Linked DNA regions of Homo sapiens. The protein of the gene in region 2 purifies or fractionates together with the protein of the main gene of each other region. This does not show direct contact. Each region holds a gene or a part of one and is shown on either strand. Other genes may lie near its edges.

Region 1 (3,500 bases), on a different chromosome or scaffold from region 2:
CAGGAAAGACCTCAAAGAGAAAGTAGCATTTAATGTGGACCTTGAAGGATGATTAGAAGTTTTGTCAGATGGTGGAGGTGAAACACTCCATCTTAAGCAGAACAAATATGAAAAGATAGGAGAGCATGAAATATCAATGAGGAATAACCCAGTTTCACTAGGTAGGGAAATAGTAAGAAACAAGTCTGGAGAGGGAAGCTGGGACTCTGCTGGGCTGGCGAGTTAGAGCAGAGTTCCACGTGAAGTGAGGCATCGTCGAGGATTTAGTTGTCACTGTCTAGTGAAATGCATCTAAAAGAGCAATCTGACAGTGTTCTGTAGGGTCTGCTTAGCAATGACTAAGTTACGTACACACCATTCTTTGAATTTGACTTTGAATTTGGTATGTAGAACCTGAAGTTATTGTGTGCCCAAATTCATAGTGAGAAGATGTGTTTATGCATAGGTCACACACTTAGTACGCATTAGTATACAATAATGGTGACATAGCACTTTGTTTAAGAGTGTAAACATGTAGCACGGAAGTTGAGGTAACTTATAGTTATGGTTTTTGTCTCAGGTTGACAAGAATTCTACCTGCCCTGGTAGGGTGATCATATTGTTAGAAAAGGGTCTTCTGAGTTCTTCAGAGTTGCTCCAAGGCAGGAGTTTAAGGAAAGTAAACCATGGACACCCTGGATTAATTTTTTTGTTTGTCTAAAGTATTACATAGATTGTGGCTTTGAATAAATTACCTTTCTGGAAGCTCAGCCAAGCATAGTAAACTACAAGAGAAGACATCTAACTGTCACTCCTCCCTGGCCCCCACTGGCTCTCCTCCCTCGGCGCACACCTAATCCAGATGTGAAATTAAGTGCTTTCACACAGGTCCATTTATAAAGGAAATTAGGTGGGAGACTTGATTCCAGAGGGATCTTGACCTTATTCCCCAGTTTTCTTTATATTGATTTTAAAGCCTATATATTGGTTGAAAATCATTGGGAAAATAGTTGTGGAGAAGATAGGTAGTATTTTAAAATGTGACTAATGCTAGTTTTGATGGTTTAATAGTTTGGGTACTGTATTATTCTGTTTTATATTGCTACAAAGGAATATCTGAGCCTGGATGATTTATAAGTAAAAGAGATTTGTTTGGCTTATGATTCTGCAGGCTATACATGCATGGTGCTAGCATCTGTTCAGCTTCTGGTGAGGCCTCAGGAATCTTTTACTCATGGCAGAAGGTGAAGGGGGAGTAGACGTGTCACATGGTGAGAGAGGGAATGAGAGAGGCCAGGATCTTTTCAAGAACCAGCTCTCATGTAAAGGAACAGAGTGAGAACTCACTCATTACCATGGAGAGGTCACTAAGCCATTCATGAAGGATCTATCCCCATGACCCAAACACCTCCCACCGGGCCCCACCTCCAACACTGGGCATCACATTTCAACCTGAGATTTGGAGGGGACAAATACCCAGACTACATAAGGTAGTATAAGTCTAATCTATTACATTCTGCCACTGTAGGTATGATTAGTACCTACCAAATTTATACTGATACTAGCTTCTTCATAAAGATTCTCAGAAGAGGTAATTTAAGTCTTTCTTGCATTGTTTTTATAGTCATAAAATAACCTTAACTAATAATATACTTTCTCCTTTGTCTAAATTAAAAAACCCCCCTGCTTGAATTTAAGCCTTTCCTTTTCATTTCATCGTTTGAAGATACTATTGATTTTGATGGCAAATCATGGAATGAATTTTATACCTATGTTAGTCACTCGAAGTGTTTGGTAATTTAGTTTACCATGTTTTAGTCTAACATAGAAACACAATCTAATATTTTTGAATTCTCTTTCGTTAAGGCATTGTGTCCAGATCTGGCACCCTGACTTATGAAGCAGTTCACCAAACAACGCAAGTTGGATTGGGGCAGTCTTTGTGCGTTGGTGAGGGACTTTTGCTAAAATCATTTTATTGGAGTGTGGTGTCTTCATTGGATGAGTATAATAATAATTATTGATTTTATTATTTGCAAAAGATTTTGATACTCTTATGAAAAGGATGTTACGATCTCAAATTTAATTTGCTTAAGTGTAAAGTTATTCTGTAGTTGTTTCAAGATTCATGGTCCAAGATTTCATTTCTAGGTTGAAGAACTAACATCTTGGAACACGTGGCTCCCGAAGCACCTTGGTGCCTGAAAACATCACTTGGTTTGATTGCTCTGAAGAAATGGTTCCTTATATTAGGACTTTTGTTATCATTGCCATTATGTTCATCAGTGCTTTATAGTTACTGAATTCTTTGCCATTCAGTGTCTCATTCTTGAGGGAAGCCTCTCAGGTGCCTCTGAGCTGGAAAATTGTACTGTTAGAGCCTTATTGGTGAGAAAGTCAAGGTTGAGGAAGGTTCATTTCCTCAGAACCTCTCTTTTTATCACACTATACTGCCTCCCATTTGAAAAAGTAAAAATTACAAATTTTTACATTTTAAAATAATTTCATTATTTGTTGCCAAAAGCCAAGGCAAATTCCTCCTTTTCATATTAATAAATATTCTTTCAAGTTCTTAGAATACCTGTTAATGTTTTAGAATTATCTTTACGAAAAAGTAACATATAGCTCTGGAGTGTTTTTATTAAGATTCAAATTCATAAATTAAATATTGAAAACATTAATTGAGCATTTGTACATGCAAAGCACAATATAAGTGGAAGATACTTTTTAGTGTGACAGAGAATAAGAAAAGGTTTGAAACAGGCTTACCGATTCCTTCTTTTCCAGCTTCAGTTTTGAATTTGTAAGTGGAGGATAATAATGCCTATCTCACAGAGAAGTTGAGAAAATTAGGAAATGACAGATCTAACGTGTGCCAAAGCATAGGACTTGACACACGGTTGGCACTTAATAAATGCCGGTTCTCTTCTTCCACTCCATTTTTCAGAGATGCAGTGAAAAGAAAGAAATCAATCCTGCCCTCAGTAAGTTTGTAATTTAAAAATAAAAAACGGCAGCCTGTCTGTAGGGAACATTTACTTTAACCCTGTCCATGAATTTGTTCTTAAATGTGGTGTGTAGTATGGCTCTGATATGCATGCTCTGTCATCATCCACTCTGGATCCAGAACACGAGCAGTCAGGGTACTCACTGTCACTCACTGGCACTTGTGTCTTAAAACTTGTGGGTGATTTATCTGCAGCATACTTCATCAAATAGTTTCTTTACTCAAAGAAATTTGTTAAATGTTTATTCTTTCCTCTGGTGTAACATCAGCATGCAACACAGATACACATTTTCTTAAAATGTTCATTTCTAAGGAGTTATCTGGGAATAATTTTGTGGGACAGAAGAGGCTTGATAAAGGAGCTAAAACAAAAAGAGGGTTGTCTTCGTTACAGCCCTAGAATATTCCTAGAATATCAGGAACCAACCACCATTTAGCATTTATATAATATTACCAACAGAAATAAATGTAGCATTTTGTGATTTTTTAAATATTAAATGCAAGAGCAATGATA
Region 2 (3,500 bases):
AATGGTGGCAACACCCTGCTCTTCTTTTTCCTCTTTCCTTAATTGCCCAGTACAAAACACACACATTTCCTTCTTGAATAGGACATGTTTCCTACTTTCAGTGTTAAGCTTGCAACATCTCTTAAAACACCACATAATGCCCTAACTAAATTATGTTTTACTTAATTCAACTCTGGTTGGTTTTCTTACTTTCTTTCTTTCTTTTTTTTTTTGGAGATGGAGTCTCACTCTGTCACCCAGGCTAGAGTGTAGTGGTGCAATCTCGGCTTACTGCAACTTCTGCCTCCCAGGTTCAAGTGATTCTTCTGTCTCAGCCTCCTGACGAGCTGGGATTACAGGTGTGCACCACCAAGACCAGCTAATTTTTGTATTTTGCAGTGACATGATCATGGTTCACTGCAGCCTCAACCTCCTGGGCTCCAGCGACCCTCCTGCCTTAGCCTCCTGAGTAGCTGGGACCACAGGCATGAGCAACCATGCCAGGCTAATTTTTTTTTTTAACTTTTGGTAGAGACGGGGTCTCACTTTGTTGACCAGGCTGGTCTTGAACTCCTGGCCTCAAGCAATCCTCCTGCCTCAGCCTCCCAAAGTGTTGGGATTACAGGCATGAGCCACCTCACGCAGCCTAAACACTTTTAAAAAGGTAGAGATAAAGCAAATCATGCAAGAGCACACTGGGACAAATATTTCAATATAATCCAATACCTGTGCAAAATTGCTGATTCCCACTGTTCCAATGCCATTTTCTGTTGTTACCCATTCGTGTTTCTCTGTGAATTTACGCACTAAAACAGAAGACCAACATTTCAGAAAAGCAGTAGCATTACTTCTTAAGAAGCACTTTTCATTACCATTGCTTTCAAAAGACTTTCCCAGAATTTCTGTTTGACCTGTTGACACTACCTTTAAATAGTGCATGGCTCAGGAAAGAATGAAGATCATGTATAGAGATGACGCATTTAAACAGCAGTACCATTTAAGCAAAGATGGCTTCATCTGAACACCTTGTGCATCTTTTGGAGATTGGATTATCTGCTTTAACATTACTTAGCCTAAATCACAAAAGAAAATTTTGGAGCATATTTCAAATGTATACTTAACTATTACTGGTCTGTCTTGCAGAAAAAAAAATCTGTGCCTCTGAAGACAAATTTGGGGTGATGAGGTTTAGGGAGGCAGCATAAAGATGGCTCATATAAGAAATGATTTAACCTAAAAAAAAAAATAACAGTAATAATCAGGTGCCTCTTTAGGCAGAGTTGACCTAAGAGAGCTTCAGTGCAGCTTGGGTTACAAAGTAAAATTTTACAGGAATGAAACTGACCTCCTGGAACAACTATAATTTGACTAAGTTCTTAAAATTCTACTTTAATCAAATTCAAGCCTAACCTTGAAGATAGCACTACCATCGCTTAAAGAAGAAAATTAAGATCACAACTCAACAGTCTTCTCAGAGCTAAGCCATGGGTTGGTGGAGAATCAAGCTCTGCTCACCACTCACTGGACAGGTTCAGCCCTCGACTTACTGAGCACTTCTCTAAAGATACGGTCAAACGATTCAGGGAATCCTGAAAGAAGGACCGGCCAATGTTCAAGAGTAAAAAGAGTTATTTAGGATATAAAGTTAAAAGTACTTGCCTTAGAGAATAATATTTTTTAAAAAGCATATGCTATATTAAATACAGTTCATATTCTGACACCAAGTATTTTTCTAAAAACAATGCAACGTAAGTTCATAGAAAAATGGTTAACTCAAATACTGTTTTAAAGAGGCCTCACTGGCTCATTTTACCCCTTACCCAAAGGATAGTAGTACTTAAAACAGCATTCAATTGCTTTGGTTACAGCTCTGATACGCAGCACAACGTAAGTAGAGTGTATAATTATTATTTTTATTTTTTATTTTTGTAGAGATGGGGGGGTCTATGTTGTCCAGACTGGTCTCAAATTCCTGAGCTCATGATCCTCCCACCTCAACCTCTCACAGTGCTGGGATAATAGTGTGTGAGCCACCGTGCCTAGCCAAGTATATAATTCAATATTGCTTTCTTTTCCCCTTAATTATGAAACTTTCTAAAGTTCATACCCCTTCAGTGGAAGAAGTCAAAAAATGTGTCACTAAGAAATTTATTTTGCTTCATTCCACTTCAAAGAACTGAATGTTTCAGGTCACTCTGACGTTCAGGTAAGAAAGTTTAAGATGTGTACACTGTGTTTTGACTGAAAGACTCTCCCTACCATCTTTACTAACTACTTCCGGTCTAGATTCAGAAGTCCGTTCCTGCCCAAAGGCTTGTCTAACCAAGTCTAGGTTCTTAGGCCAGCCAACATGCTCTTACGGCACCCTGTACCACTATCCCCCAGCACACACACGGTGCTGAACATACTAGAGATCATCTGTCAGTCTCCCCAGGAAGTAGGCTGTGTACCCACCAAGAAACAGCAAGGTTTATCTTATTTTCATTTGTTTTCCCAATTTTAAATACAGTGCTTGCCACATAGCAAGCACTCAAAAGCTGAAGGAATGAAATAATTTTTTTTTTCCTTAAATTATCATGTCGCAGGCCAGGCACAGTGACTCATGCGTGTAATCCCAGCACTTTGGGAGGCCGAGGCGGGTGGATCACCTGAGGTCCGGGGTTTGAGACCAGCCTGGCCAGCATAGTGAAACCACATCTCTACTAAAAAAATACAAAAATTAGCCAGGTGTGGTGGCACACTCCTGTAATGCCAGCGACTTGGGAAGCTGAGGCATGAGAATTGCTTGAACCCAGGAGGCAGAGGTTGCAGTGAGCTGAGATCACGCCACTGCACTCCAGCCTAAGCAACAGAGCAAGACTCAGTCTCAAAAAAAACAAACAAAAAAAATCCCTGGGCGTGGTGGCTCATGCCTGTAATCTCAACACTTTGGGAGAAAAATATATATATTTTTCCCCTTAAATTATCATGTTGCAGGCCGGGCACAGTGGCTCATGCCTGCAATCCCAGCACTTTGGGAGGCCAAGGCAGGCGGATCACCTGACGTAAGGAGGTCAAGACCAGCCTGGCCAGCATGGTGAAACCAAGTCCCTACTAAAAATACAAAAATTAGCCAGGTGTAGTGGTACACGCCTATAATCCTAGCTACTTGGGAGGCTGAGGCAGGAGAATCACTTGAACCTGGGAGGCGGAGATTCCAGTGAGCCGAGATTGCACCATTGCCTGGGCGACTAGCGAAACTTCATCTCCAAAAAAAAAAAAAAAAAGTTGCAGAATGACGTGATTTTTTAAAGTTTATTAAGAGGATTCTGAGGAAAATAGATAGTATATAGTTATTTGTCTTTAACACTTAATTCTCTCACTCTGCTACAAATCGCCGGTTATATGCCAATTATGAGCAGTTTGAAGCTAAAACACCTTTTCAAAGTAAGCACTGGACAACTATAAACACCACCTGAGACTACCTTCTTTGACCTTGCCATCTTGCCTACCTGTGAAGATAATTTTAGGAGTAAGGCTGC
Region 3 (3,500 bases), on a different chromosome or scaffold from region 2:
CTTTTGGATGCAGGTATTCGATAAATTATATGAGATATTCAACACTTTATAAATATTTTATGTTTGATGGTTTTATGTTTGATGATTTTGCCTAATTGCAGGCTAATGGAAGTTTTCTGAGCACATTTAAAGCAGGCTAGGCTAAGCTATGATGCTCTGTAGGTTGGGTTTATTAAATGCATTTTCCACTTATGATATTTTCAGCTTACGGTGGGTTTATTGGATGTAACCCCATTGTAAGTGCAAAAGCATTTGTACTTAAAATATACTGGAAATAGACTGGATTAACTGCTAAACAGATGACAATCATTTGAAAACAAAACACAAATTGTATGTTTCTGAAATTTTAAGAAGGCGAATTGGTTACAGGGTTTGCCAAAGGGGGTGATTGAGAATATTATCTGGCTATTTAAACCACCAAACTAATTTGCCCTTTATAAATAACCTCCATAGTTTTTTTTCAATGCATAATATGCATTTTAGATTGCTTATATCTACCTACTGTGTTCTGTCTACTACTAAACTAATTATCTGAAGAATATGGACTGCATCTTACTTTCCAGCTCCCACACTGTTCAGCAGAAAAATATAAAAGTACCAACACTGATTCAAGAAGAAATATAAAACCAAAAAACCAATTACCATTAAAGAAATCAAACTAGTAATGAAAAATCTACCCCTGTTAAAGACACCAGGCTCAAATGTTTTAAAGAAACCGCTAGTCCCTACCAAATGGTTTCAGAGATTAGAAAAACAGGTTAGTTACCCAACTCATTTTATGAGGTCAGAATATCCTTGAAACCAAAAGCCAATAATGATACTATAAGAGTAGAAAATTTATAGGCCAATCTCATTTATGAACACACATACAAAAATCATTCATTAGCTAATTCTACAGTACATATAAAAATCCATAGAGAACAAGTAGGTTTTATCTTAGGAATGCTAGGATGGTTAAACATTAAAAAAAAAAAAATTTGTCAATAGCACCATATTCACCAGATTAAGAGGAAAAAATTCTATGAACATTTCAATAGATGTAACAGATGCAGAAAAACCATTCAATAAAATTCAACATTTATGACTTTTTTAAAAATTAGCAAACTAGTAATAGAAGAGAACTTTATAATGAAAAAAAGGTTTCTGAAAAACCTACAGCAAACATCATGCTTACTGATAAAATGTTAAAATGCATTCCCATGAAAGACAGGAACTATGTCTTCTGTCAGTAAAAACTTCAGGCTTAGCATGAATGAAATATTTCAAGGCCAAGAGACAGACTCCAAGGCCCAAATGTCAGCTGTCCCCAAAAGAAGGTAAAATACATCTGGGCTTCCCTCAAGTGTCTGTACTGTTCATTGCAAACTTTTTCTGGTGGGAAATATTTAGTATGTAATACTAAGTGGACACAGGAAAAAAAGCAGGACACAGAATGATATCTATGCTCTGATTAGAGCTATATTAATTTTTTTTAAATATATGGACAAGGACTGCAAACAAGCATGGAAAACTGGATACATAAAAACTTGTGGAAACGTGGGTACAATTTCCTTTTTCCTTGTTATTTTAACATTAGCAGAATATTTTAAAAGCAAGCCCATGACAAAGTCTGTTTAGGTGTTTTGATTTATATCTTAAGCAGGACAGCTTTCTGCTTTATAACAGCAGTCTGCTGTAAACAAAAATGTTTAGGGGAATTTTCCTAATTACCTTAAAGTGACTTGGAAAGTGGGAATATAAAGAAAAGAATAGGAGGAAAAGGAGGGTAGATATAGTTATCGTTTACTCTGATGATAGCTAGGAGAAATAATTACCTCCTCTAGCTTGGTAAATTCTTTACGAAATTCTTCTTTTAGGCCAGCATAGTCTTCTTTATTTTGGCTTCTAATAAAGCTTCCTACCAAGGATGGCACCTAGACAGAGAATAATTTCTTAGTTTATCAGTTTATGGCTAACTGTATCGGCCCCCTCACATAAAAATATGGTAGAACCCTTACAGTCCTGGTGTCAAGGTGTTCTAGAAACACCAAGGGTGCATCAAGTTCCTGCGCTCACAGAGGTAATGGACTGGTCTTAGGAACAGTTTTGTGGCCTAAAATGCTGGCTTGGTCAGGATTTTATAAATTACAAATAACAGAAGCTACCCTGGCACGTTTAAGAAACAACTTTCTTTCTTTTTTGAAATGGAGTCATGCTCTATCACCCAGGCTGGAATGCAGTGGCACGATCTCAGCTCACTGCAACCTCCACTGCCCGGGCTCAAGCAATTCTCCTGTCTCCGCCTCCTTAGTAGCTGAGATTATGGGCGTGCGCCACCACGCCAGGCTAATTTTTGTATTTTTAGTAGAGATGGGGATTCACCATATTGGCCAGGCTGGTCTGAAAACTCCTGACCTCAGGTGATCCATCTGCCTCAGCCTCCCAAAGTGCTGGGATTACAGGCTTGAGCCACCACGCCCGGCCAACACAACTTTCTTTAAAGGAGACTGAGTGGCTCATAGAATTATTGGGAGGCGGAACAAACAGGCTTGGAATTAAGACAGAACATCCCAAATTCATGCTGAGAAATGGCCTAATGGGAAGCACTCACTGCTGCCAGTCCAAGCTGAGCACCAGATGCTTCAGTTTGTGAGGCTGCCAGAAAGTAGAGTCTGAGATAACTGCTAACACCACTGGCACTGATGCCATTTCTACTCTGGAATTTTATCTTGTAACCCACACTGCTGAAACCCAGAAGCTCTGCCGCTGCTCTCACCAGGAAAACCAGTGGAGAGCTGAATATCTTAAGCAGATATCCCACCAAGCCTGTTTCCTTACCTTGCTCGTTTCTGATTTGAACTCTATGTGTGTGTCTGACAGGAAGAGCCTAGGTCACAAAACTTGGCCCCAACTGCAAAGAGCTAGGGAAGAAAATTTTTCTGATTTCTTTGTTGGGGAGGACACCAGGAGACTGTTCAAAAGGGACCGACTACCTAAAGACTTGATGGGTGTAGCATCAGATGCTTTAATGCTCGTGATGGTGTTTATGTGTTTTAATACTTTGGTCTTTGGTATCATTTTATTGCAAGACGCAGAAGTCCACTCATCCTAGTTTAAGTAAACAGGCACTTGTAAAAATATAGAATCCCATGAAATCCCATCCACATCAGTTCAGCCTGCCTTCACTGGGACTGAAGGCTTTCAGGCAGCCCTTTCATCCACATTTCCACCTGGGTCTGCCTGGTCTTTCGTCTGTTTTTCCTCACATTTCTGCTCCATATTACTTTGCATACTTCAGTCCCTTTGCAATGTTTTTAATTCTTGCTCCTCTAAAAATTTATTTCTTAAGTGGCTTTGGTTTTTCTAGCCTCTAATTAACATTATTTGAGCCCCAACGCTTAGTTGTCTTTACTGTCCTAACCTTTACTGTCTTAGTTCTGTGTCTCATTTCCAAGTTCCCAGGAGAGAAGATAACTGGCCCAGGTGTGTGGGGTGGGGTACATTTCTGTTCTGATGGGCTG
Region 4 (3,500 bases), on a different chromosome or scaffold from region 2:
GCGGAGGTTGCAGTGAGCCGAGATCGCGCCACTGCACTCCAGCCTGGGCAACAGAGCGAGACTCCGTCTCGAAAAATAAAAAATAAAAAAAATAAAAAATAACAACAACAACAACAACAAAAATGAACTCTGACTAAGTCTCACATTCTATATAAGCAAAAATAAAATGAATCAGACTTAAGTGTAAAAAAAAATTATAAAATCTTCTGGATCTAGAGCTAGGCAAAAAGTTATTAGGCTTGACACCAAAAGCAAGATCCATTAAAAACAAACAAACAACAAAAAAAAACACTCACTGAGCGCTGGGTGCAGTGGCATGCACCTGTAATCCTAGCTACTTGGGAGGCTGAGGCAGGAGAATTGCTTGAACCGAGGAGTTGGAGACCAGCCTGGGCAACATAATGAGATCCCATCTAAAAAAAAAAACTCACTAAACTAGACTTTATAAACTAGACTTAATAAATTAGACTTTATAAAAAAATTTTTTTAAATTGCTATATGGGCTGGGCATAGTGGCTCACGTCTGTAAAGTAATCTTAGCACTTTGGGAGGCTGAGGTGGGAAAATCACTTGAGCACAGGAGTTGGAGACCAGCCTAGGCAACACAGTGCCATCCATCTCTATGAAAAAATTTTTTAAATTAGCTGGGCTTTGTGGCGTGTACCCATAGTCCTACGTACTTGGAAGGCTGAGGCAGGAGGATCACTTGAGCCCAGGAGGTTGAGGCTGCACTGAGCCGTGGTTGCACCACTGTGCTCCAGCCAGGGTGACAGAGTGAGGCCTTTCTCAAAAAATTAAAAAAAAAAAAGGATTAAAAAATTTTGCTCTGCAAAAGACCCTTTTAAGAGGATGAAAAAAAGCTACAAAGTGGGGAAAAACATTTGTAAGCCACATGTCTGACAAAGGAATAATACTAGAATACATACAGAACTCTGAAACATTGAGCTGTTTAATACGTAAAACTCACTTTTGTGAGTTTTTGTCAAGGTTAATGAGCTGCTCCTCCCAAAAGCACTCCTTGGCTTCTGAGCAAAAAAAGCCAGACACAGGCCAGGCACGGTGGCTCACGCCTGTAATCCCAGCACTTTGGGAGGCCGAGACGGGCAAATCACCTGAGGTCGGGAGTTTGAGACCAGCTTGACCAACATGGAGAAATCCCATCTCTACTAAAAATACAAAATAAGTCAGGCGTGGTGGCACATGCGGGTAATCCCAGCTACTTGGGAGGCTGAGGCAGGAGAATCGCATGAACCTGGGAGGCGGAGGTTGTGATGAGCCAAGATTGCGCCATTGCACTCCAGCCTGGGCAACAACAGTGAAACTCTGTCTCAAAATAAAAAAAAGAAAAAAAAAAGATCTGTGCAGTTTACTGTATGTAATTATATCATAAAGCCCCATGATCTTTCTACCACTCGACATAACCACCCTGAGGAGTATGTGACCTCTGAAAAATACCAACTACAAAGAACAAACTACAAACGACTACAAAGACTAGTAAGGACTACAGTAAAAAAAAAAAAAATTATTTTTTTGAGACGGAGTTTTGCTCTTTTGCCCAGGCTGGAATGAGGTGGTGCTATCTCGGATCACTGCAACCTCCACCCACTGGGTTCAAGAGATTCTCCTGCCTCAGCCTCCCGAGTAGCTGGGATTACAGGTGCATGCCACCATGCCCAGCTAATTTTGTATTTTTAGTAGAGATGGGTTTTCGTCATGTTGGCCAGGCTGGTCTTGAACTCCTGACCTCAGGTGATCCACCTGCCTCAGCCTCCCAAAGTGCTGGGATTGCAGGCATGAGCCACCGCACCCAGCCCAGTAAAGATTTTGAACAAGATACTCTATATTGGTGGAAGCTTCCATTCTCAGCATCTTGTTTTGTTATTATTATTATTATTATTTGAGACATGCTCTCACCCTGTCACTGAGGCTAGAGTGTGGTGGCATGATCACGGCTCACTGCAGCCTCGACTTCCTGGGCTCAAGCAATCCTCCTGCCTCAGTCCCCCAGGAAGCTGGAACCACAAGCACATGCCACCACACCCAACTAATTTGTAAAAAGTATTATCTGTAGAGATGGGGTCTCCCTATGTTGCCCAGGCTGGTCTCAAACTTCTGGGCTCAAGCGATCCTCCCACCTCAGCCTCCCAAAGTGCTGAGTTATAGGTGTGAGCCACTGTGCCTGGCCCATTTTCAGCATCTTGAATGGAACCACTGGTGTGTTTGTAAGTATGTACAGAAAATACATAAGAAGTGATAATTTGGGTTTAGAAAACTCTCTCAAGAAGACATAGAAGGGCCAGTGCGGTGGGTCACACCTGTAATCCCAGCACTTTGGGAGGCTGAGTTGGGAGGATCGCTTGAGCCCAGCAGTTTGAGACCACCTGGGGCAACAAAGTGGAAATCTGTCTCTACCAAAACAAAATACAAAAAATTTAGCAAGGCATGGTGGTACACACCTGTAATCCCAGCTATTTGGGAGGCAGAGGTGGGCACATCACCTGAGACTGGGAGGTCAAGGCTACAGTGAGCCGTGATCACGCCACTGCACTCCATCCCAGGTGACAGAGTAGCCTGAAATACTTGGAGTCAGGAGGCATCCATGCTGCAGGTTTTCTTTTGGAATAGCTGGACAGAGACCCCAGGAGAAGAGTGCCTAGGAATCAGGGATGGGGGCTGAGTCAAGACACTTGTCCCTTGATAGGATTACTAAAATACATACAAGGCTAGATATTAGTTTTCTAGGAAGAAAACCTTTGAGGTAGCCAGGTGCACATGGTGGTTTGTGCTTGTAATCCCAGCTACTCAGGAGGCTGAGGAAGTAGGATTGTTTGAGTCCAGTAATCCCAGCATTTTGGAAGGCCAAGGCAGGCGGATCACGAGGTCAGGAGTTTGAGACCAGCCTGGCCAACATAGTGAAACCCCATCTCCACTAAAAATACAAAAAATTAGCTGGGCGTGGTGGCAGGTGTCTGTAATCCCAGCTACTTGGGAGGCTGAGGCAGGAGAATTGCTGAACCCAGGAGGCGGAGGTTACAGTGAGCCCAGATCGCGCCACTGTACTCCAGCCTGGTGATAGTGCGAGACTCCGTCTCAAAAAAAAAAAAAAGAAAAAGAAAAACATATTTAAGTGTGTGTGTGCGTGTGTGTGTATAAAACAAAACTTGATGCTTCTTTTTGCTCAGGGGACTACAGAATTACAGAATGTCAGGTTAGGAAGCTGCATACTCAGGGTTCATAAGAGACCAAGTGAAATTTCACACACGTATGAAGGCTGCATACTTCAAATCACAGCCTTATTGGGTTTAGGGATCAGGCTCAAACTCCAGCCTCTTTAGGAATCACAGAATCTTCTCCCAAAGGTAGAGCACATCTTGTCCAAACAGCCTATTTTACAAACAAACTAAGGTCTGCGGAGGTTCAGTAACTTGCCTAAAGCCACACTAAGTTAGGACTGGTAGGACTGGGATTTGCTTTCCCGTCAACTAACTCCCAAATGGAGG

The links. The genes of interacting proteins can lie anywhere in the genome.
Region 1: the proteins of GCSH (region 2) and SUCLG1 fractionate together in Homo sapiens (co-fractionation; one large-scale study listed by BioGRID). This does not show direct contact.
Region 3: the proteins of GCSH (region 2) and GSTO1 fractionate together in Homo sapiens (co-fractionation; one large-scale study listed by BioGRID). This does not show direct contact.
Region 4: the proteins of GCSH (region 2) and ACSF2 fractionate together in Homo sapiens (co-fractionation; one large-scale study listed by BioGRID). This does not show direct contact.

Annotation. Positions count from the first base shown.
Region 1 is NC_000002.12:84,431,781-84,435,280, reverse strand, and holds part of SUCLG1 (succinate--CoA ligase [ADP/GDP-forming] subunit alpha, mitochondrial precursor), read left to right. Parts: intron 1-1,845; coding exon 1,846-1,929; intron 1,930-3,500. UniProt on the Homo sapiens protein: Succinyl-CoA synthetase functions in the citric acid cycle (TCA), coupling the hydrolysis of succinyl-CoA to the synthesis of either ATP or GTP and thus represents the only step of substrate-level phosphorylation in the TCA.
Region 2 is NC_000016.10:81,089,896-81,093,395, forward strand, and holds part of GCSH (glycine cleavage system H protein, mitochondrial precursor), read right to left. Parts: exon of another isoform or gene 1,196-3,500; coding exon of another isoform or gene 1,102-1,195; intron 786-1,101; coding exon 706-785; intron 1-705. UniProt on the Homo sapiens protein: The glycine cleavage system catalyzes the degradation of glycine. The H protein (GCSH) shuttles the methylamine group of glycine from the P protein (GLDC) to the T protein (GCST).
Region 3 is NC_000010.11:104,261,392-104,264,891, reverse strand, and holds part of GSTO1 (glutathione S-transferase omega-1), read right to left. Parts: intron 1,914-3,500; coding exon 1,815-1,913; intron 1-1,814. UniProt on the Homo sapiens protein: Exhibits glutathione-dependent thiol transferase and dehydroascorbate reductase activities. Has S-(phenacyl)glutathione reductase activity. Also has glutathione S-transferase activity.
Region 4 is NC_000017.11:50,432,718-50,436,217, reverse strand, and holds part of ACSF2 (medium-chain acyl-CoA ligase ACSF2, mitochondrial isoform 2 precursor), read right to left. Parts: intron 1-3,500. UniProt on the Homo sapiens protein: Acyl-CoA synthases catalyze the initial reaction in fatty acid metabolism, by forming a thioester with CoA. Has some preference toward medium-chain substrates. Plays a role in adipocyte differentiation.